Homo sapiens: one gene and its partners. The protein of the gene in region 1 interacts with the protein of each later gene in a pairwise test. Each region holds a gene or a part of one and is shown in the gene's direction. Other genes may lie near its edges.

Region 1 (4,329 bases):
AATAAAAATGTCTAGAAATTGAGCGAAATAATTATAAAACATTAATGGTTTACCATCTTGATAAAGTAAACTAGAAACTAACAAAACAGCAGTCACTTTAATGTTATAAGAATGTTTGAATGACATAGATTGGCTAATTGAAAGCATTTTTTATAAATTGGGTTTTTGTATATAATCCAAAGTGAAGATATTGTAAAATGGTGTAATTTAACCATATGTGTGAGCATCTCAGGTTTTCATAACATGTGGGCACTCACTCTTCCAAGATTGTTTGGCTAGCATAATGCTGACTTTTTTGGCTTTTAATAATTGCTTATGAATAGTATAAACTGTAAAATAGAAAGCTATTTGATTTGACAATAGCAAAATATTCACAATTTGAATGAAATAGGTATCTCTTCACTTGGGCTTTTAAAAAATATATAAATACTGTATTTCATTGAACACATTAAATCCAAAAGCAGGCCATTACCTGCAGCTGTCTAATGGCCAGATTTGATACATACTACAGACAATTACAGTTTCTTTGTTCTTACTGTACTGTAAAATAAGTTCTTCCACATACTTGCCTGGGAAGTTTTGAAAAATAAAGCCTAACTTGAAAATTATGAATCAAGATTTCTTTCAATATTAAAAACAGTAATAGCGCTCTTGGTTTTATTTTATAGTTAATAAAAATTTAGATGAATGAAGCTTTTCCTCTCCCTTTTAGGACAAGTCTAGATTATATTTTCTGTGCTAAATTGAAGGTTCTTTCTCCAATCATTAGAATGAATGAACATGCATTAAGCCTCTGTTAAAAGCTACTAAGGAGTAGTGAAGTCAGTGTTAAAGTTTATTTCTTCTTCTTGCTCATATCACTAAAAATAAATTGCCCAAAAGATGTATAGCAGGAAGGAAAAGAAAAATCAAATAATATTGAAAAGTACATATGAGAATAATCAGTCAAAATAAGCAAAGTTTTCCTTGCCTTAAAAAAAGAATCTACCATCTGAAATGCCTACTTGTTTAAGGAACAAAGAGCCAGGTCTCCCTCTTTGTAGATCTCACTTATAGATAGTATTTGGAGAGTGGGTGAGTGAGCAAGAACCCCGAATCCAAACGTGGGCAGCAGACCTCTCTCTGGCTGCTCCTTTGCTGATCAGGGCCCAGGTAAAACTTTTTTTTTGTATACTTTCTATAACTTAGTAGGTTTCTTAGGAGAATAATAGATGCATGGGAATAATAACATTTACATTTTAAGTTCCCTTATCTGTTAGGCCATGATTGTGCCAAAATGATTAAGGTGAGTTGAGATTGAGAGTACAACTGAATCTGTATGTCTCTCTTGGTTTGTGATTAATCTGGGTGATACTTGATTGCTGAATATTTCTGTAGAGATTTAGAGTATCTTATACATGCCTGGCATAAATACAGATTGGAGGCAGGATGTTTTTAGTTGGTTTCTCTAATTTTATTACCTGCCTAAACATTTTAAGAAATATATTCTTTTGCTTCTATCCCTTTACCCCCAAATGATTCAGGTGTAGGAGCTGCACGATCTGGGAACCTCACGTTTATGGTGGGAGGAGTTGAAGATGAATTTGCTGCTGCCCAAGAGTTGCTGGGGTGCATGGGCTCCAACGTGGTGTACTGTGGAGCTGTTGGGACTGGGCAGGTAAGATTTTTACATTAATGACCTTGACTTGATGATGTAAAATTGACTAATGTTCCTTTCTCTTTCCTGACCATATTTTTATTCTTCTTTCTTCAACCTATGGATTCTTTGCTCAGATTTTAAAACATTTATTTGGAATAAATTAGTTTTGCATCATTCCTGGTGGGCTTAAGCAGACATCAGCCAATTTACTTATTTAAAAAACTTCCATTATTGGCCAGACGTGATGGCTCATGCCTGTAATCCCAACACTTTGGGAGGCTGAGACAGGAGGATCACTCAAGCCCAGGAGTTTGACACCAGCCAGGGCAACATAGTAAGACCCCATCTCTACAAAGAACAAAAAAATTAGTCGAGTGTGGTGACACACACTTATAGTCACAGCTACTTAGGAGGCTGAGGTGGGGGGATCACCTGAGCCCAGGGGTGGGGGATTGAGGCTGCAGTGAGCCATGATAGAGCCACTGCAGTCAGCCTGGGTGATAGAGCAAGAACCTATCTCAAAAAAAAAAAAAAAAAAAAAAAAAACGGGAAAAAAAATTCATTATTAGGATCTTGACATGTCTGTCATCCCAGCAACTAGTGAAATCATCCTTAAAACTGCTCTTATTCGAAGTGCTTGTTTCTGAGTTGCTATTTTCCTCCATCTAATTTTGTAATTACAGTTGACCCTTGAACAACACAGATTTGAACTCCATGGGCCCACTTATACATCTATTTTTTTTCCATAGATATATTGAAAATTTTTTTGAAGATTTGTGACAGTTTGAAAAAACAGATGAACCACATGGCCTAGAAATATCAAAAACATTAAGAAAAAGTTAGATATGTCGTGAACGCATAAAATATATGTAGATAGATACTAGTTTATAAATATGCACAAATCTGTTATAAAGAGTTAAAATTTATCAAAGTTTACAAATATTTATAGACCATACATGGCACCATTTACAGTTGAGAGAAATGTAAAGAAATGTAAAGATGCATTAAATCATAATGGCATAAAATTAACTCTAGTAATACTGTACTACTGTAATAATTTTGTGGCCACCTGTTGCTATTGCAGTGAACTCAAGTGTTACAAGTATTGAGCATAAAATGTCATGTGACACTAATCATCTTTGTGTGAGTGGTTCATCTCTTTAGTAAATTGTGTATCATAGTAAAAATTGATCTCTTGGAATTCTCTTGTATTTTTTTATCATGTTTAGTGCAATACCATAAACCTTGAATGACACCATGGGACCCATACAAAGTGCCACTAGTGATGCTGGAAGTGCTCCTAAGAAGCTGAGAAAAGTCATGACATTACAAGAAAAAGTTGAATTGCCTGATACATACCATGGATTGAGGTCTGCGGCTGCGTTTGCCCTCCATTTCAAGATAAACAAATCCAATGTAAGGACCATTGTAAACAAAGAAAAGAATAGTCATGAACCCATCACTGCAGCTACTCCAGCAGGCTTGCACTTTTTGCAGAACATCTTTTTATCTCACATTGAAAATGCAGCTTTTATGTAGATGCAGGATTGCTGTAGAAAGGCATACTTACATCTAATATGATTCAAGAAAAATATGACAACTTAAAGCAAAAAGAAAGTGAAGGATCTAAAGCTGGAGAATTTAATGCCAGCAAAGGATGGTTTGATAATTTTAGGAAGAGGTTTGCTTAAAAAATGTCAAGAAATAGGCGAAGTAGCTTCTGCCAACCAAGAGACAGCAGACAGTTCCCAGGCGCCATTAAGAAAAAATCATTGAAGAGAAAGTATATCTGCCTGAATGAGTTTTTAATGCAGACAGAAGTGCCCTATTACGGAGAAAAAAAAAAAAAAAAGGATGCTCGAAGGACATTTATTAGGAAGAGAAGCAAGCAGCACCAGGATTTAAGGCAGGAAAGGATAGGCTAACTCTACTGTTTTGTACAAATGCAGTTGGGTTGAAAATCAGGACTGCCCTTATCTATAAAGTTGCTAACTTCTGAGGCTTTAAGTGAAAAGATAAATACCAGCTGCCTGTCTTTTGGTTGTACAGCAAGAAGGCCTGGACGATGAGAACCCTGTTTCTGGATTGTTTCCATCAATGGCTTTGTCTCTGGAGTCAGGCAATATCTTGCCAGTAAGGGACTGACTTTTAAAGTTATTTTGATATTGGACAGTACCCCTGGCCACCCAGAATAACATGAGTTCAACACTGAAGGTGTCCAAGGGGCCAACTTGCCCCTAAACATAACGCCCCTAATTCAGCCTCTAGAGTAGGGGATCATAAGGACCTTTAAGGCTCATTACACATGGTACTCTATGGGAAGGATTGTCACTGTGGAAGAAAACCCTGATAGAACATGAAAATCTGGAAAGATTACACCATTGAAGATGCCATTGTTATTGTGGAAAACGCCTTGAAGGCCATCAAGCCCCTAACAGTAAATTCCTGCTGGAAAAAACTGTCCAGATGTTGTGCAAGACTTCACAGGATTTATGGCAGGGCCAATCAAGGAAATCACTAAAGAGATTGTGCATATGGCAAAAAAGGTGGGGAGTGTATGAAGGCTTTCAAGATATGGATCTTGGATTAATTCAAGAGCTAATAGACACCACAGCAGAGTAATTAACAGAAGAGGCTTGATGGAGATGAGTGCTTCTGAACAGTACCAGATGATGAGGAAGAAGATGTAC
Region 2 (4,329 bases), on another chromosome or scaffold:
AGTTTTTGTCGACTCAGACAAAAACTTAATAACCACTGTACTTTAGTGCCTAACCACTGTACTTTACTGCCTTGTTCTAAGGCCTTTTAATGATGTCTTACCTCTTAGGAGTCCAGGAATAACTTTTTAATAAACAGATATCTCAACCAAACAGTTTTATATTTAATCACCTTAATTGTCCAGGCCAGATAATTCAATGTATTTTCATTTTTGTATGTTTTTGTTTTCTTATCAGTGTACTTTCAGTATTTACACTGATAATAGATATCATATTTTAGGTATTTACTAGGTGCCTGTACAAGCTGCCATATTACCGAAGATGGACAGTTATTCAGATAATACAATAGAGAGTAAAATTTACAAAATAATGTAGACAGAGTATTTTATACAGGGTGTTTCCTCTGTGTTTAACTGAAAATTTAGACTTAGGGCAGGAAGAGAGATGAGCTTTTCTTCTCAAATGTGGACTCCCTAACTGATACCCTGTTTATCTTTTTTCCTCATTCCTTTTATGGCATGTTTCTCCTTTTAGGATTTTTGCAATTTCTTTATCTACCTTTCTGTTCTGCCTCAAAATTATTGTATTTTCTTTCATTTTCCTCTGGCATCGTGAAGGGCAGTCCAGACTTGAAGAAAGTGTTAGATCTCACCAAATAGGCAGCAGGAAGCTCCAAGAAAGCAGATAGATAACATGTTATACAGTTAAATTGTCTCACGCTCCCAATCACTGAGGGTTGATTAATCCACTTACTGTAACTGCTTTTAGAGGAAAGTGGTTGGTTCTTGGTGCTGCTGGTCTTTGACCAGCTGAGTTCAGTGGGTATTGATACCCACTGAACTCAGCTATGAAAATGATAAAGAGCTATGAAGGCAAAAGTTGTTATTGATACAACTAGTTGTTCAGCAGTCTTAGGTGACAGCAACGAAAAGTATTGTGGTTGTGTGTCTAGTTACTACCTTCTATCTTTTGTAATATATAGATCCAAATCCTACATTTGCTGTTGGATAACCTCAAATTTGTTTCACAGTTTTTCCAGTTATTCTGATCCACTGCATTATTGGATTACTAATAGATATCTCATAATTATATCATATACAAATTTCATTAATCTTTTCTAGATGAAGTAGAAAACACAATGAGGATATCTAAATATTTTTAGGTGGACTGGCTAACTGTGGGCCCTTTGTGACTTTGATCTTGAAAGCAAACTAAAGGTCAGTATGTAAAACAGTGGTTAGGTTGTTTTGTGAGATCTAGATCAGAGCTGCCCCATGGTTTCTTGAGCATTTCCAATGAGTTAGAATTACATAGTAAGACTTCACCTAAAAGGTGGATCTACTATTGAAACAATTTCAATTATAGAGTTAGGGTAGCATAATGCTTAGGAGTAGGGGCTCCAGGGCCAGATTGCCTGCATTCAGATCCTAGTTCCTCCCTTTTTAGCTTAGAGGCTAAAAAGTTTGACTTCTCAAGTAAAAAATTGACATAATAATTCTAATCACCTCATGAAGAATAAACGAGTTAAATAATGTAAAGTGTTCAGAACAGTGGCTGGCAGAAAGTGAACACTTAATAATTTCATTTGATCATTTCTGAAGAATCTTTTCTAATTCCATCTTGCCTTTCTTTTTTTTTTTTTTGAGATGGAGTCTCACTCTGTTGCCCAGGCTAGAGTGCAGTGGTGTGATCTCAGCTTACTGCAACCTCCGGTCCCCAGGTTCAAACGATTCTCCTGCTTCAGCCTCCCGAGTAGCTGGGATTACAGGCACCTGCAACCCTACCCGGCTAATTTTTGTATTTTTAGTTGAGATGGGGTTTCAGCATCTTGGCCAGTCTGATCTTGAACTCCTGACCTCATGATCCACCTGCCTTGGCCTCGCAAAGTACTGGGATTACAGGCGTGAACCCCCATACCCAGCCTCATCTTGCCTTTCTTAAAGGTTCACAGATCAGAATTGCACATAATCGATACACTGGATGCAAATATGTAATGAATGAATGATTTTTCACATTACAAAATTAATTTGTGCATATTGTAGAAAGTTCAGTAAATACATAAAAGCAAAATGACCAAAATGTTAACAGTGTTTATTAACTATAATCTGTACTCAAATTATATCCATTTTGGTGGATGACCTTAAACATATGTATGTGTGTATAACATTAAATAATAGGTAATACCGTAAGACTGTTTCACCTAATTTTTTCCACTTAACAGTGTTTAATGAATATTTTCTCATATCATTAAACTCTATACAGCATTGTTTTAATGGCTGCATAGTATTCCATTGTATGAATATGCCAGAAAGATTATTATTTAACCATGAAGATTGTGCTAGCATTGTGTTCTCGAGGATGGTAATGCTAACTGAACCAGCATGGTAAGGTGTTGGTTGGCATACCATAATCCCTATAAATACATCCCCAGTGTTGTATATTGGCAGTCTTTACATTGCTGTTTGCAAATTCCTGAAATTGCAGAATGCTTTTGGCCAGTTTCTTATAGTTGATACAGTTGTTAGTCTTTTTCTCAGGTTACAGTAATGTTTACAGTGCCTCTTGTAAAGTCAAAGGATTTGTACCAATCTGAGTGGCAATTTTTTCCATGTTTCTTCAACTAGTCCTTTTAAGATTCTCACCTGCCTTTAGCAAAGAACATATATTTAACACCTGTGGTTGCAGTTATGTAAAAAATACCGATATCACAGCCCCACCTCCGAGATGCTGACTTAATTGGTTTGGTGGTGGAGACTGGGCATAAGTAGTTTTGTTTTTGAGATTTCCCCAAATGATTCTATTGTGAAGCCAAGGTTGAAAATCACCGATCTATGTTGATATTATTTCTTGGCACTTGAGCCAAGAAATAATAAAAATATTTCTTTTTTTTATTAAAGAATTTTAAATTAAATTAAATTTAATAAATTAATTTTATTAAATTAAAGAAATTTGCATGCTTTTTATCTACTCTTGTGGGTTCAGATCTCTTCAGAATGGCACTGGGGAAACAAAAAGATTGGTAAGTACCATTCAAATTTAGGAAAATAGAATATTGTGCACTAGTTCTTATTGGCTAAAAGCATATGACAGTATTCACTCTTACTGGCTGGCCATATATTAGTAGTACTGTTTAATATGATAATTTTGATATAATTATTATAAAGTACTGTTTAATATATAAAACTGTACATACATACAGACATACATATGTTAATATAGAACTATTTCTCAAATATATAACAAATATATGTCAATAAAACAAATAATTGCCATAACAGTGGTATTAAACAAGATAAATCTACAAACTAATACCTCAACTGGACTCTGCCTATCTCCCCTGGTTCACCTCATGCTTATTCACCTTCTTATTCTTATTGAAATTTCCAGTTCACCATTTTTACATATAGCTTAGAATCTTATTATCCTGTAATTGTACATTTGCTGATCTGCCACTTTATCATTTTATTGTTGCTTCCTTGTTTTTATTATCAGCTTAGCAGTACACTATCTACAATTTTAAGATATCACTTTGTACTTTATCAAAGTTAGACCTCAGATCCTGGGAGACCCTAGCATAAATACTTTTCTACTTAAATATTTAGTTATTAAACATCTGCCAAAGGGAGGCTATTCTTTCTATGTAAAATAAATAATTCCAAAATAGGATTATTTCTTTGCATCACATGGCAGTGTCCTAGTCTGGTTTACTATACAAAATACCATAAATTGGGTGGCTTATAAATGACAGAAATTGATTTTTCTAGTTCTGCAAGGTGAAGATCAAGCACCAGCAGATTTGGTGACTATTGAGGGCCTATTCCTGGTTCATAGATGTCACCTTCTGGCTGTTTCCTCACATGGTGGATGGAGCAAGCTAGCCCTCTGGGGTCTCTTTTATAAAGGTACTAATCACATTCATGAGGGCTCTACCCTCATGACTTAATCACCTCCCAAAGGTCCCACTTCTTAATACCATCACTTTGGGGGGTTAGGATTTCAACATGAATTTTGTGGGGGATACCAGCAAACATTCAGACTATAGCTGGGTAGCTGGCAGAAAGCTCCCCTACCCCACATGTGGATGGAAAAACAATGTCTATTTGCTTCCCATTCTTCAGGCACTTCCTTTCCCTGTTGGATCTAGTAGATTGGAGATGCATGGTTTTCTTCTTTTGAAATGACACTGCTGGTTTTTCCAGTAGATTTGCCCCCTCTTTTTAACAAAAATAATTGTAAAAGCAGTTAGAAATTGTTCAGGAAAATATTACCTGTAATTATAACATGTGAATGCTATTATTTTCATTTTTGTCTGCATATATCCCTCGATATTC
Region 3 (4,329 bases), on another chromosome or scaffold:
GCTCCTAGCAGCTACAGGCCCCTGGAGAGGCAGGCCTTGAGGGGACTACCTCCTGTCTTAAAGCCCTGAGCCAAGGAGGGGCCAGAAGCCAGCCTGCAGCTGAGGCCTCCGCAGTGGCAGAGTCCAGCCAGCAACTGAGCAGGCCAACCCTGTGGGGGGCAGCTCCAGAGACCTGATCCAATGCCCACATTACTCCCTCAGAGCTCCATCCAAATCGCCTTTGAGGAGGTGCCCCAACTCCCACCCAGAGCCAGCATCAGTCATGTGACCTGCGTAGACCAATCTGAGCATACCATGGTAAGGGTCTGATGGGCACTGCCCTCTTTGGGGTCCAAGAAGGACTGACCCCAAGGGCTCCCTTTAGTCCAGAGGTTCTTAACCTGGAGTCTGTGAATGCCTTATGGATCTAAGGATTGGTTTCAGGAAGTCTGAGAATCCCATTGAAGTTATGTGCAAAATGTTGGATGTGTGTTTATATGCATTTTTCTGGGGAGAGGAGTCTTTGGCATTTATCTGATTCTTTTAGGGATTTATGATCCTGAAAACATGAAGTCCTTAGGAAAACGGAAGTGGGGAGGGGTCTGCTGAACTATTACAGGGCAGTTCAAAGCAGGGTGAGCACCCTTCCCCCACATCTGACCCACCTCGCCGGTCTCAGGTGCTGCGTTGCCAGCTCTCTGCTGAGGAGGTGCGGTTCCCAGTCTCTGTGACCCAGCAGTCCCCCGCTGCCGTCTCCATGGAGACCTACCACGTCACTCTGACACTGCCACCAACACAGGTAGAAGGGGATGTGGGAAACTGAGTTGGGCAGGGGCGGTTCCATTGGCTCAGCTTCTTCCATTTGTTTCCTCTCTGGGATGGAATTCAGGAAGGGAGAGTCCTCGAATTAGGAGTCCTTGGGTAAATGGGGCAAGTCAGCCCAGTCACTTTGTTCCTGTCTGTAGTTGGAAGTCAACCTGGAGGAAATCCCTGGTGAGGGGCTGCTCATATCCTGGGCCTTCACTGATCGCCCAGATCTCAGCCTAACGGTGCTTCCCAAGCTTCAGGCCAGGGAGGTAAGGAGGCAGAGCTGGCAGAGAAGAGGCAGAACGGGGAGGGAGGCAGAGGTGGGGGATCCACCTCCTTGTTGTTCCCTTCTTCTCTCTGCAGAGAGGTGAAGAACAAGTGGAGCTCTCCACAATTGAGGAACTGATCAAGGATGCCATAGTCAGCACCCAGCCAGCCATGATGGTCAACCTCAGGGCTTGCTCTGCCCCAGGAGGCCTGGTGAGTTGGCACCCAAAGCAAAAGATTTGCATGCACCTTGTTCCTAGGGTGCTATGTCAGGATTCTTGCTCTTTGGACCTTCTTCTGCTCTTAGGTACCCAGTGAGAAGCCACCCATGATGCCCCAGGCTCAGCCAGCCATCCCCAGACCTAACCGGTTATTCCTACGGCAGCTTCGGGCATCTCACTTGGGAAATGAGCTGGAAGGTGAGAGCTGGAAGTGGCTGCGGGACTGCCAAGGCTATGGTTGGTTGCAGATGCTCTCTGCCCCTCTGCCAAGGGTACAGCCTCTTTATTCTGCAGTGACTTCCCATCTCTGATCTGAGCATCTTCTAACTTCTGGTTCATCACAGGCACCGAGGAACTGTGCTGTGTAGCTGAACTCGACAACCCCATGCAGCAGAAGTGGACCAAGCCCGCGAGGGCTGGATCCGAGGTGGAGTGGACAGAAGACCTGGCACTGTAAGGAGTAACCCTGCCCCGACCCCATGCTCCAGAGCAGAGAGGATCAAACCTTTCCAGCACAGTCCTTGCAGGAATCAGCTCTGTTTTCAGTAGCCTTTGGCGTGAGCTCCTATTGTATGCCAGGCCCTGGCGTGGGTCTTAGGGATACAGACTTGACCAAGATACAGCCCCCACCCCTGGGTCAATGACAAGCTTGAGGCAGAGACAGGTGTACATAAAGAAGATGGTAAAACCGCTCCAGTTGAGGTTTATGTAATGTGCCGTCAGAGTGCCTAGGTGGGGGGGAGATTAATTCCCATGAGGGAATAAGGATCAGAGTAGGCTTCATGGAGGAGATGACATTTAAACCACACTTTAGAGCAAGAGTAGGATTTCATCAGAGTGTGAAAGTATTCTCGGCAGAGGGAAGAGCTGGAGCAAATGAAAGAGGGTGGCTTGCAACTGAGAGACTGGCAAGACAGGAAGAGCAGGACCAGGGAGGATTTGAATGCATAGCTGAGAAGCATGGTTTCCACTCAGGCCCTGTCCCTTTCTCTTGGGACGAGAGAGAATTTGGAGGCCAGGAGAATCTGATTGGAGCATTTATGCCGTTTTATTTATGTACACAGCTCTCTGCCTCTGGCCTGTGATCCACTCAAGTGTGGGTTCAGCTTGCTAATTTTCTCCTTCCTGCCCCATCTCCTCTTGTCCCACAGGGATCTGGGCCCCCAGAGCCGGGAGCTGACCCTCAAAGTGCTGAGGAGCAGCAGCTGTGGAGACAGTAAGTGAGGGGTGGGAGGGGCACCCCTGGGTGGGTACAGAGTGGGGTCTGGCCATGGGCCCAGCTCACAGTGCCATCCCTTTCCCCAGCCGAACTCCTAGGCCAGGCCACACTGCCTGTGGGCTCCCCCTCCAGACCACTGTCTCGAAGACAGTTGTGCCCACTCACCCCAGGGCCAGGGAAAGCCCTGGGACCAGCAGCCACCATGGCAGTGGAGGTGAGAAGCTGACCCCTGGGGTAGGTGGGAGGACACAGGGGATGGGCAGTCTCCGAGGCTCTGTCTCTTCTCTCTCCCACCCCTGGGCAGCTTCACTATGAGGAGGGCTCTCCCCGGAACCTGGGTACTCCCACCTCCTCCACTCCACGCCCCAGCATCACACCTACCAAGAAGATTGAGCTTGACCGGACCATCATGCCCGATGGCACCATTGTCACCACAGTCACCACTGTCCAGTCCCGGCCCCGTATAGACGGCAAATTAGGTAAAGAGAAGGAGCCTGGGAGCCCAGCTCTAGCCAGGGGCCCGGGACTGCAGACCCAAGGCAGGACAGTGAAAGAGGAGAGAGCCTTAATTCCAACTCCCCCTGTTTTCAGACATTCCATTCCAGTCCTACCACATCTTCCTCCCAATCTTTGTCTCTTCCAAACTTTCCCTTACCTCCTGCCATTTCCCCAGCAATTCCTCTCACTCTGCCACCCTTCTGGATCCTCCTGCCCCTCCTCATACAGGACTGTTGCACTCCTACCTTCCAGCTTCCCCTCTGGCTTTTCACAGGTGTCCTTAGCCCCAGCTGACTATAATTGTCCATCCTGCTACCCTCAGCCCTCCAGCACCCCCTGGGGTCCTCCAACAAACCCAGAGGCCTCTGTGGCATTTCTACCCCACTCAGTGGGCCCCCATGGCACTTCTGCCATTATAGGGGCCCCACTGAATTGCCCCAACTTCAGGGAGCCCCAGTACCCCCTCTGTCCCCGCTCCATATTTTCATAGCATCTCCCCACACCTTCAGCAGGCCCCATGGCACTTTCCTACACTCCCATTAGCTCCTGGGGTGTCTTTTAGTCCCCACGGCATCTTCCTAATCACCCTTGTGATTAATCACCCTTTAATCATTCTTGCCCTCTGAGTCACCCAAAGTCTGCATCTCAACAAAGACAGTAGGGGTGGGGGCCACTCTGAAGCAACTCCCAGCTCACTGACCCTCCCCCACCCACCAGACTCCCCCTCCCGCTCCCCGTCCAAGGTGGAGGTGACCGAGAAGACGACAACTGTGCTGAGTGAGAGCAGTGGCCCCAGCAATACCTCCCATAGCAGCAGCCGTGAGTGGGGAATGGGGTGCATGAGTGTGGGTTGGCCCTGGTGCCCCAGCATCAAAAAGTACTCTGGGTGGGATAGGAGGAGTTCCAATCCAAGAAAGAGCCAGGGAGAAGTCAGGTTATTCATTCTCTGCACCCCTAGCAGGGGACAGCCACCTTTCCAACGGCTTGGACCCTGTAGCAGAGACAGCGATTCGCCAGCTGACAGAGCCCAGTGGGCGGGTGGCCAAGAAGACACCCACCAAGCGCAGCACTCTCATCATCTCTGGTGTTTCCAAGGTAACAGGGCTCTGGGGAGAGGAGCTGGGATGGGGAGAAAGCCCTAATGGGTCGGTCACTCCTGCCCATTAAAACCCGTCCCTCCTGCCAGGTGCCCATTGCTCAGGACGAGTTGGCGCTATCCCTGGGCTATGCGGCATCCCTGGAAGCCTCAGTGCAGGATGATGCAGGGACCAGCGGAGGCCCCTCTTCACCTCCCTCAGACCCACCAGCCATGTCTCCAGGACCGCTAGATGCCCTCTC
Region 4 (4,329 bases), on another chromosome or scaffold:
TTCCTTCGTTCCTTCCTTCCTTCCTTCCTTCTTTCCTTCCTTTTCTTTCTTTTTCTTTCTTTCTTCCTTCTCTTTCTCTCTTTCTTTCTTTTCTTTCTTTCCTTACTTTCTCTTTCTGGCAGGATCTTGCTCTGTCCCCCAGGCTGTAGTGCAGTGGCATGATCTTGGCTCACTGTACACTTGACCTCACTGGCTCAAGTGATTCTCCCACCTCAGCCTCCCAGGTAGCTGGGGCTATAGATGTACTCCACCATACCTGGCTAATTTTTTGATTTTTTGTAGAGATAGGATCTTACTTTGTTAGCCAGGTTGTTCTCGAACTCCTGGGCTCAAGCAGTCTTCTCCCTCCACCTCCTAAAGTGTTGGGATTACAGGCGTGAGCCACCAGACCTGGCCCACAGTTCTTTTTTGCAGGTGGTGAGGGCTCCTTCTGCCCTTCCACCCAGGCCAGAAACCCCGGCCTTCTTCGCAAACCTTGCCCATGTCTGCGCCAGGACACTGCCTCTGCCCCAGGCATGTGGCATCTCTCCCTTCCAGCCTGACCCCTCAATCCCTTGAGTAAACTTCTAGGGCCCTCATTGACCACCAGGCCCGTTGAAGCTCCCAATTTGGGGCTCCTGGCCTCCCAAAGTCTCTGTGCCACCCCACCCCGACCTCAGTTATCTCCATGCCCACCGCCACCCATGCAGGGCCTGGGGCTTGGCCCCACTTTGCCTGGCCGAGCCCCGCTCATACATTGTGCTCAGCCTGGGTCCCTTCCCTTTGGAAGCTCTTTCTGCAGCTGCCTGCCCTCCCAAGGCATCTGTCTTTTCTTTTCTTTTTTTTTTTTTGAGATGGAGTCTCACTCTGTCACCCAAGCTGGAGTGCTGTGGCCCATTTTGGGCTCACTGCAACCTCTGCCTCCCAGGTTCAAGTAATTTTCGTGCCTCAACTTCCGGAGTAGCTGGGATTACAGGTGCCCACCACCATGCCCAGCTAATTTTTGTCTTTTTAGTAGAGACAGGGTTTCGCCATGTTAGCCAGGCTGGTCTCGAACTCCTGACCTCAAGTGATCCACCTGCCTTGGCCTCCCACAGTGCTGGGATTACAGGGGTGAGCCACCGCGCCCAGCCCATCTGCCCTTTTTCTTTCTTTCCTTTTTTTTTTTTTTGAGGCGGAGGTTTGTTCTTGTTGTCCAGGCTGGAGTACAATGGCGCGATCTCGGCCCACTGCAACCTCTGCCTCCTGGGTTCAAGCGATTCTCCTGCCTCAGCCTTCTGAGTGGCTGGGATTACAGGCATGTGCCACCATGCCCGGCTAATTTTGTATTTTTAGTAGAAACGGGGTTTCTCCATGCTGGTCAGGCTGATCTCGAACTCCCGACCTCAGGTGATCTGCCCACCTCAGCCTCCCAAAGTTCTGGGATTACAGGCGTGAGCCACTGTGCCCAGCCTCCATCTGCCCTTTTTCTATGTGCTTTCCAGTCAGGGCCTTGTTGATGTCCCGGAGTAGAGACCAGTTCCAGGAGAGGAGGCTGTCATTTTAAGGACACAGAGGACATTAAAAAGGGTAAAATATTGTAGCTGGGTGCAGTGGCTCCTGCCTGTAATCCCAGCACTTTGGGAGACCAAGGTGGGTAGATTGCTTGAGCCCAGGAATTTGAGACTAGCCTGGTTAACATAGGGAGACCTTGTCTCTACAAAAAAACAAAAATTAGCTGGGCGTGGTGGTACACACCTGTAGTCCCAGCTACTGGGGAGGCTGAAGCAGGAGGATCACTTAAGCCCAGGAGTTTGAGGCTGCAGTGAGCTGTGATGGCGCCACTGAACTCCAGCCTGACCCACAGAGCAAGACCCTGTCTCCAAATTTAAAAAGAAAAAAGTAGAATATTGCAGAAATCCAGAAAAATAGCCAGGGGGATTTTGTTGTTGTTTTTCCTTACCATAAGGCATACCAAGCTATCTCCCTGTAGAAAAGTCTCAGTGGTGTCCCTCGTTGCACTTGGCATGAAGCCCACGCTCCTTCCCGAGGCCCTCAGGCCCCCCTACCTGTCCCCAGCTACCCTCCCTTTGCCCGCTCTCTCCAGCCACAACAGCTGCTTTCCCCTCTGCCCCCCACAGTGCGCCAGCTCCAGTGTCCCAAGAAATCACCCTCACGTGAGTCCCCACCGCTCCGCTTCCCATCGAGGCCTCTTCTGATTTCAGAGCAGATTCCCTGCATTCCACAAAGGAGCCTCCCACCCTTGTGTTACAGGAAAGGGGTCCCAATCCAGACCCCAAGAGAGGGTTCTTGGATCTCGCACAAGGAAGAATTCAGGGCGAGTCCATAGAGTAAAGTGAAAGCAAGTTTATTAAGAAAGTAAAGGAATAAAAGAATGGCTACTCCATAGGCAGAGCATCCCTGAGGGCTGCTGGTTGCCCTTTTTAAAAAAATTAATTAATTAATTAATTTACTTATTTTTGAGATGGAGTTTCTCTCGTCGCCCAGGCTGGAGTGCAATGGCACAATCTCGGCTCCCTGCAACCTCCACCTCCCAGGTTCAAGCAATTCTCCTGTCTCAGCCTCCTGAGTAGCTGGGATTACAGGCACACACCACCATGCCCGGCTAATTTTTGTATTTTTAGTAGAGACAGGGTTTCACCATGTTGGCCAGGCTGGTCCTGAACTCCTGACCTCAGGTGATCCACCCACCTCGGCCTCCCAAAATGCTGGGATTACAGGTGTGATCCACCGCGCCCAGGCTGGTTGCCCATTTTTATAGTTATTTCTTGATAGTATGCTAACCAAGGGGTGGATTATTCATGCCTCCCCTTTTTAGACAATATAGGGTAACTTTCTGACGTTGCCATGGCATTTGTAAACTGTCATAGTGCTGGTGGGAGTGTAGCAGTGAGGACAACCAGAGGTTACTCTCGTGGCCATCTTGATTTGGGTGGGTTTTAGCCGGCTTCTTTACTGTAACCCGTTTTGTCAGCAAGGTCTTTATGACCTGTACCTTGTGCTGACCTCCTGTCTCATCCTGTGACTTAGAATGCCTTAACCATCTGGGAATGCAGCCCACTAGGTTTCAGCCTTATTTTACCCAGCTCCTATTCAAGATGGAATTGCTCTGGTTCATACGCCTCTGACGCTTGGAAGGGGTGTGGGTGTCAGCTGCCCCATGGGAGGGGTGAAGGCATGAAGCGGCCCCTCCCTGGCCTGGCCTGCTTTCTTCCTCCTCCTTCACTCCTGGGCCACCTGCAGTTGCTGGTGTGCCTTTTCAACAGACATTACTGAGGCCCTCAGAGGTGCCAGGCGCAGGGGCGTCCTGTGTTTTCTGCACCCGACGCTTTCCTGCCCCTGTGGTGGTCATGTTCACAGACCTCTTCTCTCCCCCTTGTTGTGCCACAGGTGATTCTCCTAGGTCACTGGCTGCTGACAACCTGGTAAGTGACTCTGTGGGTATCTTGTGTGTCTCCTGCGGTCTCAGGGTCTGTGTCAGCCGGGTCAGGTCCTGGTTCTGCCGTGTTTTAACCAGGTCACTTTGGGCCAGACAGCTCTGCCTCTCCGGGTCTTGATTTCCGTCTGTACAATAGGCATAAGGATTGCACACCCTGCAGGAGCTGGGAGGGAGACGTGGAAGTGCTCATCAGAGCTCCCCAGGGCCTGCCCCACAGTGAGGCCTCAGCACTGCAGCTTGATTTTCACCTTTACCATCTCTTTTAATCTGTTGAGCTTCTGGAGACATTTCTCTGCCAAACCAAGACTGGAAACCATTGAGCTCACCTGTGCACTTTGCAAACTTCGAAGTGCAGCGCACAGGGCAACAGCTGTGAGTAATGTGAACTGTAACCATCATGATTCACGACCTTGAGAAGCAGGGCCAAAATACAGATTTCTTAGTCACACTTCCCCAAGATTCTGAGTTGGTGATTCTGGGCTGGGACCCAGGCACCTGCTTTCTTAAAAGCAAAAGATAAGATGGTTTATTCAAAGACCTATTGAACCGAATGGCACTCCACACCTGCCTTGCACATGTCTTCTGCATGTTACACTTTAGTGAATGTCCTATAAATCTAGGAAGCGCCCGCTGCATGCAGGGGAAGGCAAGGCCCAGTGGGTTTGGTAATAAATGAGGTAGACTCAGTCCCTGTCCCCCTGAGTCTTCCTTGCAGCACAGCAGGGTGAGCAAGAGCATGGCCTCTCCAGCCAGACTCCAAATCCCAGCCCCACTGCTCAGCAACTGTGTGACCTTGGGCGAGTTACTTAACCTCATTGTGTCTCAGTTTCCTCATCTCTAAAGTGAGGGTAACAATAATACTTCCTTCCTATGGTTATTAACATAAATGTACATGAATGAGTTAATTTAAA
Region 5 (4,329 bases), on another chromosome or scaffold:
CCAACCAAGTTGATCAACAGGATGGTATAATATTTGAAAATCAATCTGTGTAATTCACTACATTATCAGAATAAAGAGAAAAATCATGTCAATTGATAATCTCAGGATGATCATCTCAGATAAACAGGGACATGCTCTTCTGTAACAGAACATTGATCACACTCAAGAAATATTAATATTAAACTATAATAATGCATATTCAGATTTTTCCAGTTGTTCCATTAATGTCCTAACCATTTAAAAAAAAATCTGGGTTCCTACCCAGGATCAAATATAGCATTTAATTATAAAGTTGAAAACTTAATTATTGTAAGGTGAAAATCTTTTTAACTCTGTCTCATGGAAGAGGGTGGATTGCCTTGCCTGCCTAGGCATTTTTTTTAACCTCTCTTCTCAAATACAACTCCCTCCCATCTAAGAGGAACTATTATCCTAAGTTTTAAGATAATTAATGATAGTTTGGCTTTACCTGTTTTTCAGTATGGTTTTCATTGTATTTTTTAGCATAAATTTCTTAATATCAAATAGTAATATTTTAATAATAGTATTTTAATATGATAAGATCTCGTAATGTACGTATTTCCCCATCATCATAGTTCTTTTTCCTTTTGTATTTGTGTCCTCAGTGCATCACATCAGGATGCATGTGGTATCTGTTTGTCTCATTATTAATGATACTACATTTTCATCGTTTGATTAAGGTATTTATTTGCCAGGTTTTTCTACTATTTCTTTCTTTGTACAAGTTACTGATTTCCCCTTAGTGATAGATACTTTAGGTAAATATCCTGTTTGTCATAAAACTTTGATCCTAGTTTTAGCAATCATTGATGACTCTTGTCCCCAAGCATTTTTATTACAATGTTTACCAAATGCTACTGCTGAGTTTCTGGTTCCATCATTCTGCCTGTAGGTCATAGTTGGAATTCTGCAAGAAGGAAGGCTTTCCATTTTCCTTTTTTTTTTTTTTTTTTTGTTATTTCAGTACTTTATGTATTTTAATTTTACTCTATATATTCTGTTACTATTGTTTATTTTGTTGCATGAATTGTCCCAGTTTAGGCCAGTGGTGTCTATTTCAAATCAGTGCCTGAGCCCCTTTGACATGTCTTTTTGATCACTTTCTTACTTTCTGGCACAGATGTTTCAACTTACCTTGTACTTTGCTAGTCCCAGACCTGGAATCAGCCATTTCTCTAAGGAGGCTTGGTTTCTTTTGGTGGGGAATAGTATTCAAAAGTAAATGGTGCCAGATACAGTTTTTCTTTATATTTATCTTGTTTGGGGTTTGTAGACCTTTTTGAATTCGTGGCTTGAATTCTATGAGTTTTGGAAGATTCTTGGCCATTAAGTCTTTAAACATTTATCTTCTCCATTCTATCTTCTGTTCTTTTGGGACTCCAATTACTCACATTTGTGTATTTTCCAACCTTTTTTTCTTTTTATGCTTTAATTTTAATCCTTTCTTCTGCTGTATTAAACTTTGTGTTAAGCCCATTTATTAAAATTCGCAACATCAGTTATGTTTTTTCATTCTAGGATTTCCATTTGTAGGACTCTTTTAAATAGATTATACTTGTCTGGTGAAATTACTGATATCTGTGTTTTTTAAAACATATTAATCATAATTATTTTAGAATCTGTGTCTGGTAACTCCAGTATCTGGATTACTTGTATGTCTGTTTCTATAGGGTCCCTCTGCTTTTTTGGGTCATTTTTAATTTTTAATTTTTATTTTTTCAGATGGAGTCTCACTCTGTCACCCAGGCTGGAGTGCAGTGGCACAATCTTGGCTCAGTGCAGCCTTCACCTCACAGGTCTAAGCAATTCTCCTGCCTCAGCCTCCTGAGCAGCTGGGATTACCATGCCCTGCTTATTTTTGTATTTTTAGTAGAGGTGGGGTTTTGCCATGTTGGCCAGGCTGGTCTTAAATGCCTGACCTCAGGTGCTCTGCCCACCTCGGCCTCCTAAAGTGCTGGGATTATATGCGTGAGCCACTGCACCCAGCCTTGGTCATTTTTTAAAATGTAGGAAAGCAATTTTATAATCTGTGAAGTTAAAAAAACAATATTCTTAGATTCCCTGACATTCAGTTACTTGGTCTGTTTACATCAGTCAATATGTTGCTAAGTTTTGTGGTAACAACCCCAAAATCTTGGTGGTTTACAACAGCAAAGGCTTATTTCTTGCTCGTGTTGCATTTTGGTTTCTGAATAACTGCAGTTATGGTCCACGGTTATTATGTTCCATGTGTCTTATTCATTCTGGGATCCAGGCTGAAGGAGAAGCCCCTATAAGGGATGTATTGATCTCACAAATCAAAGTTAAGGATAAGTATGAATGATGTTAATGCCTTTGAAAACTCTGCCCAGTTGAGGGTCATGTCATTCCTCCTCACAGTCTGTTGGCTAGAGCAAGTCATGTAGCCACGCCTGCAGTTAATAGGTACAGAAGAGTATGTACTCATTCCCCAGGCAGGCATTACAAGGTATGTGGCAAGAGTAGGAATGTATAATCCTTTTTCAGCGAGGGAAGAGTGAATAATTATACAATTATACATATAATTATATAATTATAATTATATAAATATACGTATAATTATATAATTATATAAATTATAAAACAATGTATCCCACTATCCTACAGGAAAAACTCCCATTTGAAAAAGCTGTAGATGTATGAGATACAGATGGAAAATTATTAATAATGATAAATTATAAAAAGTAACAAGGAACTTTATGGCATATTCAGTGAAATGTTAAGCAGTTATCAAAATGATTATTATAATACAGATTGAGCATCCCTAATCTGAAAATTTGAAATCCATAATGCTCCACAATTCACAACTTTTTGAGCACTGACATGATGCTCAAAAATGTTCATTGGAGCATTTCTGATTTTGGATTTTAGGATTAGGGATGCTTACTAGTATAATGCAGATATTCCAAAATCCGAAAAAGTAAAAAATCCAAAATACTTCTGATCCCAAGCATTTCAGATAAGGTATACCCAATTTGTATCTAGCAACATAGGAAAATGCATTTAATATAATGTTAAGTGAAAACAAATGTACAAAGTATATATATCTTGAGTACAGCTATATACACACAATTCTACATTAGTAAGAAAATTAAAGATATACAATTGATAATAGGCATTTTAGGATGATAGATTTATGAATGATCTTTCATTTTCAGACAGACTTTTGTATTGCTGTTATTTTATACTTTATTTTCACAAAAGGTTTTTATTCTAAAAGTCAAACACATATATCAGAGAAACATTGGAAACTACAGAAAAAGGGATGAAAAGGTACATATTGGACCCGTCTCCCAAAACCACCACTTTTACTGTTTTCTATGTGTTGAAAAACATTAGTATGTTAAAAAAAATTGCCGGAATACCTTCTATTGTGTTGTCATCTTTCATTTTAGGTCCTGAAAATCCTTGGTTGGTTCAAGCTTATGTTTCAGCAGCTAAACACCCTTTTGCTTCTGTGGTGGCTCAGGAGGTTTTTCAGAGTGGAATCATTCCTTCAGATACTGACTTTCGTATCTACAGGGATTTTGGGAACATTCCAGGTATATTGTCAATGGTTACGGCCTACTGTGCAGCATTTATTTATCAAAAGCAAATTTTAAATCTTGAAAGTATGTGAGTAAACAGCATTTTCTGAGATCAAATTCTTTATGTGAGAAATATACATTGACTCACTAAAACAGAGTTTGTTTCCTTTTTTAAACTCCATACTAATTTAAATGCTGGCCTCCTCTAAAATATGTCATCTTTCCCCATAGAAGAACAGGGGTGAACTGTTTAGCACCTCATTCCCAAAAGATGGTAATAGATCCTTCAGGGGTCTTTCGTTGTTGTCTTGGTTTGCCAACTCCCTTGGCAACTTGTATGTACAACTTATTTGAAGTTAAAATTTGGCTCTGGCCTGGCAAGAATGTAGGTGGCAAAATTTTCATGACCTCCCAAACTCAATATTCCTATCCTTGCTGTGTGACTTGTAATGCCTACCTGTGGAGTAATATACTTCTTCAATCATTATGTATCGAATTATGTACCAAAGCTATAGACTGTGTAAGAATTTGGAAGAGAATTTATATCAGTCGTTTGTAAATGTGACAAAGCAATCGTGCCACTGCTTTGACATTTTGTCTTTTAGGAATTTATTAAAGAAATAGGTCGAAAGCAAGGTTGATCTTTAAAGCAAAATGACTTTTTTTTTTCTATATATATGTTTTAGGAATAGACTTAGCTTTTATTGAGAATGGATACATTTATCACACCAAGTATGACACAGCGGACAGAATTCTAACAGAT
Region 6 (4,329 bases), on another chromosome or scaffold:
CATGTTTGATTTTTCAGAACCCATTGTCCCTGCCCTTTAGTCTTAACCAGATCATTTCCTGCACATGGCTGTAGAACATACTGGCCTTTTCTGTGTCCTGCATAATATATTCCACTAAATGAAGTGTGCTTTGGCTTTTTGTATTTTGTTTTTTTACAGAGGATTATTTTCTAAAGAGATGTTAGCTTTCTAAGCCAGTTGTTAAAATTCACATCATTTCCTGCTTTGTAGATGTTTAACCCTCAATGCTGCATCCTTGCTTTGCAATAAATTTTCCCAAGTGTTTCAGGCTGTGCCAACATAGTTTTTGCTTCCCCAGACTAAGCAGTCAAGTTACAGTGTTTAACAGTTCAAAAATTTAATGAACTATAAGACACACTAAAAGATGTTTGGATTTTAGATCGTTATAATGTAGTATTCAGGCCTTTTTTAGGCCAAGGATGATCGCTTGGGATTATTTTGTTTTTTGCCAGCCTGGCGTGATGCTGTGCACACCGTCAGTTCTTAATAAACATTGACTTGCCAGATGAAACTTCTTCCTGGTCATTCTACCATATGGAGCTATAATACATTTTTCTGAGAGATAATGGCCCATCAGCCATACTGTTTTAGATGGGAGGGTAAGAAAGATTTGTATGTGAATGGCATTTCATAAGTGCTAGTCAAATTACTGAAGAGAAGTCTCTGAGTCTTTCAAACGCCAGCATCTTCTGACACACTGGGCATTAGCTGCATGCAGAAAACTAGTTAATTCAGGCACTAGGAGTAAAGCACATGATGAAATTAAAAGACCTGACGCCTATCTGTGAGGAGCTCCCCTGTTAGCAGGGGCAGTTGAAAACACGTATGTGCAAAATGATTCCAAATCTGAGCAGCAAAGAAACAGTGGCATAACCTTTTTTTTTTTTTTGGACAATTGAAACTGGAATTTAGGTGGTAAAAACAGCACTAGTGGAGCAGGGCACAATGACACACGCCTGTGATCCCAGCACTTTGGGAGACCAAGGCAGTGGATTGTTCAGGAGTTCACCATCCTGGGTGACATGGTGAGACATTGTCTCTACAAAAAAATATAAAAATTAGCCGGGCGTGGTGGCGTGAGCCTGTGGTCCCAACTACTCTCTGGAGCCTGAGGTGAGAAGATCACTTAAGCCTGGTAGGTCAAGGCTGCTCTCTATCCTGGGTGACAGAGTGAGAGCCTGTCTCAAAAAAAAAAAAAACACGAAACAAACCCCAGCACTACTTGGCAGGAGAGCTTGTGATTGGCAGAAAAGAGAAGGGAACGCTCTCACAGCTGGCGAGGACTTGGCTCCTGCCTATAGTCCACTTTCAGAGCAAAAGTAGAGCCACCAGGATGGGCGTTGGTGTTTCCCTCTACAGTGTGGGTAACAGGGCAGGCCCTGCGCTCAGTACCCACATTCCCAGCTCCACTGGACTTCCAGCTCTGTGATCACTGGACACACTTCCAGCTGTGTGATCTTGGACAAGTTATTCTACCTCTCTGGGCATTTTTTCATCTATAAAATGGGGAGGCCTGTGGACAGATTCCTTGAGCACAGGAGTTGGAGACCAGCCTGAGCAACATGGTGAAACCCTGTCTCTACCAAAAATACAAAAAAGAGAAAGAAAGAAAGAAAAAAGCTGGGCATGGTAGCATGCACCTATGGTCCCAGCTACTCAGAAGGCTGAGGTGGGAGAATTGTTTGAGTCCAGGAGGCTAAGGTTGCAGTGAGCTGAGATCGCGCCACTGCACTCCACCCTGGGTGACAGAGGGAAACCCTGTCTCAAAAAAAAAGAAAATGCAGAAGCACAGCCTCCTCTATCCTTAGTTAACTCTCAGTCTACTTGGAGAGGTAAACTATAGATAAAATAGCTAAAGGACACGAGCAAACATTTAACACTGCATTAAGGGGAAGCCATGGAAAGGAACATTTGGAACCAGCTAGGTTAGTGAGTAGTCAGAGAAAGCCTTTAGGAGACACCCAATGAGGTCTTGAAGGAATAGCTTTTCCTAAGAGGAGATCATGATACAGAGACAAGTATCGTTGGAATGAACGATACTTGTGGAGTGGAACTCATTTGGAGAGTGACAGATCTGAGGAAGTTCCTCTTCTGTGTGGACAGAGGCCACCCCAGGCCTTTGCTTTGCTTTTTCTTATCCATTAGGGTCCGCTGATTCTTTCACCAGCCCCTCCGGCTGTTCTGGCTTGGCCTTGGCCAAAAGACAGAGCAGTGAGACCCCAGGAACTGACTGATAAGCAAAGTTAATCAAGTGCCTGTGTTTCTTTCACAGGACTCTGACACCACCATACCAATGGACGAATCACTGCAGTTTAACTCCTCCCTCCAGAAAGTTCACAACGGCATGGATGACCTCATTTTAGATGGGCACAATATTTTAGATGGACTGAGGACCCAGAGACTGACCTTGAAGGTGGGGTCCCTGCTGGGGGACAGAGAGAAGGCCTCTTGTTTTAGCCTCATCCAACAGTTTAGTAACTGTGTTTATATTTTGATTACGTGTCCTCAAATTGTGATATTTTGATGACAAGACAGAGCCCTTGAGTTTGGGATCCTTTCTGTTGGAGTTGAGTTATTGTGAGCCTGAAAGTACCCAGTTCCTTTGCCAGTGCTTGAAACAAACCATGAAGTGGCCTCTCTTAGGATCCAGGTCTTTTCCCATTTACTGAACTTATCATGAAAGTGAGTGCTACTACGAGGGGTCCAATCACAGGCTGAGAAATTGTGTTACAGAATCTACTCTTGGAAGAATGAAGACGTGGCTGTCCTTTGGTACCTCGCTTTAAGGTGGCTTTCCCTTAGGACCCCTACTGTGGACTGCCTTATAACTAAAACCTTTTGTATTTTAGTAACTGAATCCCCACTGTGCAGTGTTAGGGCTGCCTGGTTGTTTGCAGTAGATTAGAGCTTTAGAAGCTTCTAGAGCTTCTAAAGCCCGTGCTGGTGATCCCAGCGACTCTTCACTCCCTAGCCTTAGGTATTCCTAGAAGCCCTGACCAGTTGGCACTGCTGAGACTCCAGCCCCTGGGAGTGGTTTACAGAAACATTACACAGACTCTGATGTCAGTCATGATGTTTCAGCCTCTGCCCTTTTCCTGTATCAACCCTGATGGATAATAGGGCGTGGGTTCTGTCTGTTATCAGGGTGTGGTCCCCTGTGAATGAAGCACTCCCAGCCACTGAGCTGTGAGAAACAGTCACTCGGAAGTGTGAGCTTTATCTTAGTTTTTGTTGGATCATGTTGAGTCTGTCAGCTCCACAGGACTTCAGTACGTTTCTGAACAGTCCCTGCCATCTCTACGGGGGAGAGGGTCAGGCAAGCTGCAAGTGACACTCACCTCCTGCTGACAGTTGCAGTGTCTCAGATGGCCTGGAAGGGTGGTCTCCAGCAGCCTGCTGGGCGCTCCCCTTTCATGAGAGCCACCTGCAGTGACCTGAACTGATACATGTTGATTAGTCTGCCCTTTCTTTAGAAAACTGCTACTCTCCTTTTCATATCTCAGAAAAACAGTAGAGGCCTTTTAGGACCAAACTCCATGTCACACTGATGAAGAGCCAGTGGGGGTTAGAGCGTCCTGTTAAGGCACATGCTAACTTCCCACTCAAGTCTGGCAGCGCTGGGGCATCAGCACACCTCTTGCCACCCACACTGATACCAGAGGGGAAGGCTGTGAGGTGGCTGGGGGTTGAGACTTGAGGTTTCTAACTTTCCTCTGCACACCTGTGGCTACCTGGTGTTTGTCTCTTGATTCCCTCCACCTGCCTCACACCCTGCCTCCGTCGGGATTTTCCACCTACACCATTCAAAAGGAACATAGGAGAGGGCATGAAGGGGCTAGGCTGAAGCACTCTGATGACTGGGGCCAATTTGTGGCTGAAAATGAATACATTTTTTGAAATTTATGGTCATTTTCAAGTGATTTAGAAGGTTGATCCTTAGCCTCATACAGTGATGAAATAATCTGTGTGTTCAGAGCCAAGCAGGACTTTAGCAAGAGTCTGATTGTATTGTCACTATCTCGGGGAAAAAAAAATACAAATACATTTCTCTGATCTCTGATGGCAATGAAGTTTGACTTGTAATTTCTCTGGCTGAGGCTTCTTAATTGCTTTCTGGGCAGAATGTAGATTTTGGATTCCTGTCCATGATGCCTAATGTTGATCTCACTTTCCTTGTTTCTCTCAGTTGCTCATTAATGTGTATTTATTAAAAAAAAAAAAAAAGGATATGGGGCATGAGGTTAGATGCCATGCATATAAGTTGCAGTGGGTGATATGTGCTGAGTGACTTGGGGTCTGCCCCGGCAT
Region 7 (3,697 bases), on another chromosome or scaffold:
TTCTCCTGCCTCAGCCTCCCGAGTAGCTGGGATTACAGGCGTGCACCACCATGCCCGGCTAATTTTTTTTTGTATTTTTAGTAGAGATGGGGTTTCTCCGTGTTGGTCAGGCTGGTCTTGACTTCCTGACCTCAGTTGATCCACCCGCTGTGGCCTCCCAAAGTGCTGGAATTACAGCGTGAGCCACTGTGCCTGGCCTTTTTTTTTCTTGAGACGGAGTTTTGCTCTTGTTGCCCAGGCTGGAGTGCAATGGCACGATCTCGGCTCACCACATCCTCTGCCTCCAGGGTTCAAGCGGTTCTTCTGCCTCAGCCTCCCGAGTAGCTGGGATTACAGACATGCGCCACTACACCCGGCTAATTTTTTGTATTTTTAGTGGAGATGGGGTTTCTCCATGTTGGTCAGGCTGGTCTCGAACCCCTGACCTCAGGTGATCCACCTGCTTCAGCCTCCCAAAGTGCTGGGATTACAGGCGTGAGCCACCATACCTGGCCGCTTACATTGCTTTTTGCCGAGTGATCTAAGGAGGTGTTCTTGGAGACTCCAGCCAAAGGTCAAGGCTGTAGTGCTGTTGCATTTTCTTTCACAGCCAGACCAGTGGCGTCACTTGGGGAGCTGAGAAAACAAGCACAGCAAGAGTGGGCAGCTGTAGAGGAACTGGCTAGGTCTGTGCTGGGAGTATTCCTGCCCAGCATCATCTTTGCGTGGGTGTAGTCCCTTAAATGTGTGAGATATTGGAAGAGACGTCAATTTACTAATTCTGAACTGGAGCTCGTGCTCTGCTTGAGGGAACTTCCTCCTGGAGGGCATGTCCTCATACAACCAAATTATTTATGAAAACATGGCTTGGTATAAAAATTATCCAAATAGAAGGAAAAAAAATATGGCTTGAGGGTGCAGAATTAGCTTGCTGAATGTTGAAGAGTGTCAGTGGCCATGCCTTAATGCCCTTCCCTGGAGATACTTTGTTCTGAAGAACTAAGGGTGTGTATTTAGCACCAAGGGACCCCAGCTGCTGATGTGAAGGTGAACTTGGACTGGATCTTGTTCCTTAGCTCCTGTCATTTTATTTCATTTTGATTCCTGTGGCTAGTGGGAACTTCTGTCATTTTAGACTGGTTAAAATGCCTAACCAGAGCTTTATTTTCTGATCTTGAGTCCACATCTTGTAGCTTGGTTAGAACTGGAGTTTGCTAAGCTTCTGTAGCAATAATTGCATGGGTCACCTCCCTCAGTGGGCAGCTCCACTCATTCCATACTGCTTTACCTGTTTCAGTCTGAGTGGGAGATCTTTCCTGACCTTGATCCCAAATTCCAGGTGCTTGTTACTGTAGCTCTGTCTTCAGTTCAGCCCTTGTGCCAAGTATTGGGGAGTGAGCTGTGACCAAGCCAGACACATGTCCTGCCCTCATGGAACTTACAGTTTAGTGAGAAAGGTGGAGATTAATTAGAAGCATGATGAAGTTTATGAACATGGCAGGCATATTGCCATGGGAGCATATTGCAAGGGGATCAAATGTGGCTTAGGGGTGAGAGGAGGTGGTCCTGGGGAATGGTCTTTAAAGTCTTAAAGGGTGAGTAGAGTTAGCCAGGCCAAGGGAGGGGTGTCTGAAGGCTCTGACGGATTGGAAGAAGTCTGTGTGAAGAGGGGAGGAGAGCTCAAGGTGAGGCAGGAGAGGTAGGGCTGGGCCACAGGTGAGCCAGGTTAAAGATCTGGGACTTTTATCCCCAGGATGAGTGGTTGATAAGGGTTTAAGTGTATGTTGGGGGAGGGGGTGGTCAGATTCCTTTATTTATTTATTTACTAATTTTTTTGAGACAGAGTCTTGCTCTGTCTGCCAGGCTGGAGTGCAGTAGCATGATCTTGGCTTACTGCAACCTCTGCCTCCAAGGCTCAAGCATTTTCCCTGCCTCAGCCTCCCGAGTAGCTGGGATTACAGGCGTGTGCCACACGCTTGGCTAATTTTTGTATTTTTAGTAGAGATGGGGTTTCACCCTGTTGGCCAGGCTGATCTGGAAGTCCTGACCTCAGGTAATCTGCCCGCCTTGGCCTCCCAGAGTGCTGGGATTACAGGTGTGAGCCACTGTGCCCACCCAGCCAGATTCCTATTTTTAAAGGTTCACTCTAACGCCTTTTTAGAGATTAGATTAGGGATGGAGAGGGGGAGGGGTTATGAGAGGGGAAGCTGATAGACCAGTTTGGAGGATGTTGCAGTATCCCAGGCATAAGATGACCATGAGGTAGATTTGGTAAGGGGGATGGAGGGTGGCCCCGGGGATGGAGAGAATGGATAGTTTTGAAGGAAGTGGGTTAGACAGGCTTTGAAGTAGATGAGCAGGACAGAAACAGGAGGTAGGGGTGGTTTAGTTTCAATCTCATAGGAGACAGAGGAGGAAAGCAGCATTATAACTCTCCTGTCCTCGCTGTTTTGCTTATCGCAGGGGTGCAGGTTTAAGGACCCCGAAATTTCACTGAAATTCACTGGCCGTTTTTAAAACCAGAAGATGCCTTGAGATTGTAGGGGAAGGAGGTGGAAAAGTAGAAGGCCAGAGTGGCTATTCTGTGAGGGATTGATCTCACGGGGTCTTGCAGGGGTTGGTGAAGGGTGAAAGATAGCAAAGAACTGGATTCTAAGACCTTTAGATCCTTCCTGGGCTCTCCCATTGAACTAAGAGTATAGTGGGTGCCTAGTGTGCTATGTTGCAGAGCTCTGTTGGGGGACAGTAGGAAGGGAAACTTGGGTATGAACCTGGGAAGAGGGACTTGAGGCCTCACTGGGCATTCTCTCTGCACCTGTGGCATTGGAGAAGAAATCAGAATTTGCTCTGTGGGGTTAAGGGATGAAATGAGTGCCCACCTGCACAGTCTAAGGATTTACCATTTTCAGCCGGAAGTGGCCTGCCTCTTCACTGGTGAACAGTCCCTAAATTTCCAGCCTTGGTCTCACACCAACTCTCTGGATTTTCTGGCCGCAGGAATTGGATTCAAGTACGTGGCTCTGGGAGACCTCATCATCCTCATCACTTTTGGCCCGCTGGCTGTGATGTTCGCCTACGCCATCCAGGTGGGGTCCCTGGCCATCTTCCCACTGGTCTATGCCATCCCCCTCGCCCTCAGCACCGAGGCCATTCTCCATTCCAACAACACCAGGGACATGGAGTCCGACCGGGAGGCTGGTATCGTCACGCTGGCCATCCTCATCGGCCCCACGTTCTCCTACATTCTCTACAACACACTGCTCTTCCTGCCCTACCTGGTCTTCAGCATCCTGGCCACACACTGCACCATCAGCCTGGCACTCCCCCTGCTTACCATTCCCATGGCCTTCTCCCTTGAGAGACAGTTTCGAAGCCAGGCCTTCAACAAACTGCCCCAGAGGACTGCCAAGCTCAACCTCCTGCTGGGACTTTTCTATGTCTTTGGCATCATTCTGGCACCAGCAGGCAGTCTGCCCAAAATTTAAGGGGACAAGTAGCTCCCCCCACGACATGTCTCCCTTTCTTAGAATATATTAAAGTCAGAGTCTCTGAGGAAGGAATGTGATTTGGCAGTCAGGGTACTAAGCATGGGTGGGAACTCCTGCCTTATAAAAATTGTTTTTGTGTTCTTAAAGATAATATGTTGTTTTTCTGTTTTTTGTTTTTTCCATTTTATGGGGAATTTAAAAACCATTCTTGTATCAGAAGGTGAATTAGG

Evidence for each region.
Region 2: the proteins of HIBADH (region 1) and SEC22B interact in binary tests that used the Homo sapiens proteins (3 or more experiments, as listed by UniProt).
Region 3: the proteins of HIBADH (region 1) and C2CD2L interact in binary tests that used the Homo sapiens proteins (3 or more experiments, as listed by UniProt).
Region 4: the proteins of HIBADH (region 1) and AGTRAP interact in binary tests that used the Homo sapiens proteins (3 or more experiments, as listed by UniProt).
Region 5: the proteins of HIBADH (region 1) and ERMP1 interact in binary tests that used the Homo sapiens proteins (3 or more experiments, as listed by UniProt).
Region 6: the proteins of HIBADH (region 1) and GOSR2 interact in binary tests that used the Homo sapiens proteins (3 or more experiments, as listed by UniProt).
Region 7: the proteins of HIBADH (region 1) and UBIAD1 interact in binary tests that used the Homo sapiens proteins (3 or more experiments, as listed by UniProt).

The regions. Positions count from the first base shown.
Region 1 is NC_000007.14:27,540,295-27,544,623, reverse strand, and holds part of HIBADH (3-hydroxyisobutyrate dehydrogenase, mitochondrial isoform 1 precursor), read left to right. Parts: intron 1-1,523; coding exon 1,524-1,657; intron 1,658-4,329.
Region 2 is NC_000001.11:120,169,553-120,173,881, reverse strand, and holds part of SEC22B (vesicle-trafficking protein SEC22b), read left to right. Parts: intron 1-4,329. UniProt on the Homo sapiens protein: SNARE involved in targeting and fusion of ER-derived transport vesicles with the Golgi complex as well as Golgi-derived retrograde transport vesicles with the ER.
Region 3 is NC_000011.10:119,109,903-119,114,231, forward strand, and holds part of C2CD2L (phospholipid transfer protein C2CD2L), read left to right. Parts: intron 1-201; coding exon 202-297; intron 298-658; coding exon 659-778; intron 779-944; coding exon 945-1,055; intron 1,056-1,149; coding exon 1,150-1,266; intron 1,267-1,360; coding exon 1,361-1,472; intron 1,473-1,618; coding exon 1,619-1,727; intron 1,728-2,425; coding exon 2,426-2,490; intron 2,491-2,579; coding exon 2,580-2,707; intron 2,708-2,797; coding exon 2,798-2,972; intron 2,973-3,708; coding exon 3,709-3,810; intron 3,811-3,949; coding exon of another isoform or gene 3,950-3,952; coding exon 3,953-4,086; intron 4,087-4,177; coding exon 4,178-4,329.
Region 4 is NC_000001.11:11,742,434-11,746,762, forward strand, and holds part of AGTRAP (type-1 angiotensin II receptor-associated protein), read left to right. Parts: intron 1-2,099; coding exon of another isoform or gene 2,100-2,135; intron 2,136-3,369; coding exon 3,370-3,404; intron 3,405-3,693; coding exon of another isoform or gene 3,694-3,790; intron 3,791-4,329. UniProt on the Homo sapiens protein: Appears to be a negative regulator of type-1 angiotensin II receptor-mediated signaling by regulating receptor internalization as well as mechanism of receptor desensitization such as phosphorylation.
Region 5 is NC_000009.12:5,812,141-5,816,469, reverse strand, and holds part of ERMP1 (endoplasmic reticulum metallopeptidase 1), read left to right. Parts: intron 1-3,434; coding exon 3,435-3,581; intron 3,582-4,252; coding exon 4,253-4,329. UniProt on the Homo sapiens protein: Within the ovary, required for the organization of somatic cells and oocytes into discrete follicular structures.
Region 6 is NC_000017.11:46,932,736-46,937,064, forward strand, and holds part of GOSR2 (Golgi SNAP receptor complex member 2), read left to right. Parts: intron 1-2,293; coding exon 2,294-2,434; coding exon of another isoform or gene 2,435-2,545; exon of another isoform or gene 2,546-4,087; intron 4,088-4,329. UniProt on the Homo sapiens protein: Involved in transport of proteins from the cis/medial-Golgi to the trans-Golgi network.
Region 7 is NC_000001.11:11,282,668-11,286,364, forward strand, and holds part of UBIAD1 (ubiA prenyltransferase domain-containing protein 1), read left to right. Parts: intron 1-2,976; coding exon 2,977-3,464; 3' UTR 3,465-3,697. UniProt on the Homo sapiens protein: Prenyltransferase that mediates the formation of menaquinone-4 (MK-4) and coenzyme Q10. MK-4 is a vitamin K2 isoform present at high concentrations in the brain, kidney and pancreas, and is required for endothelial cell development.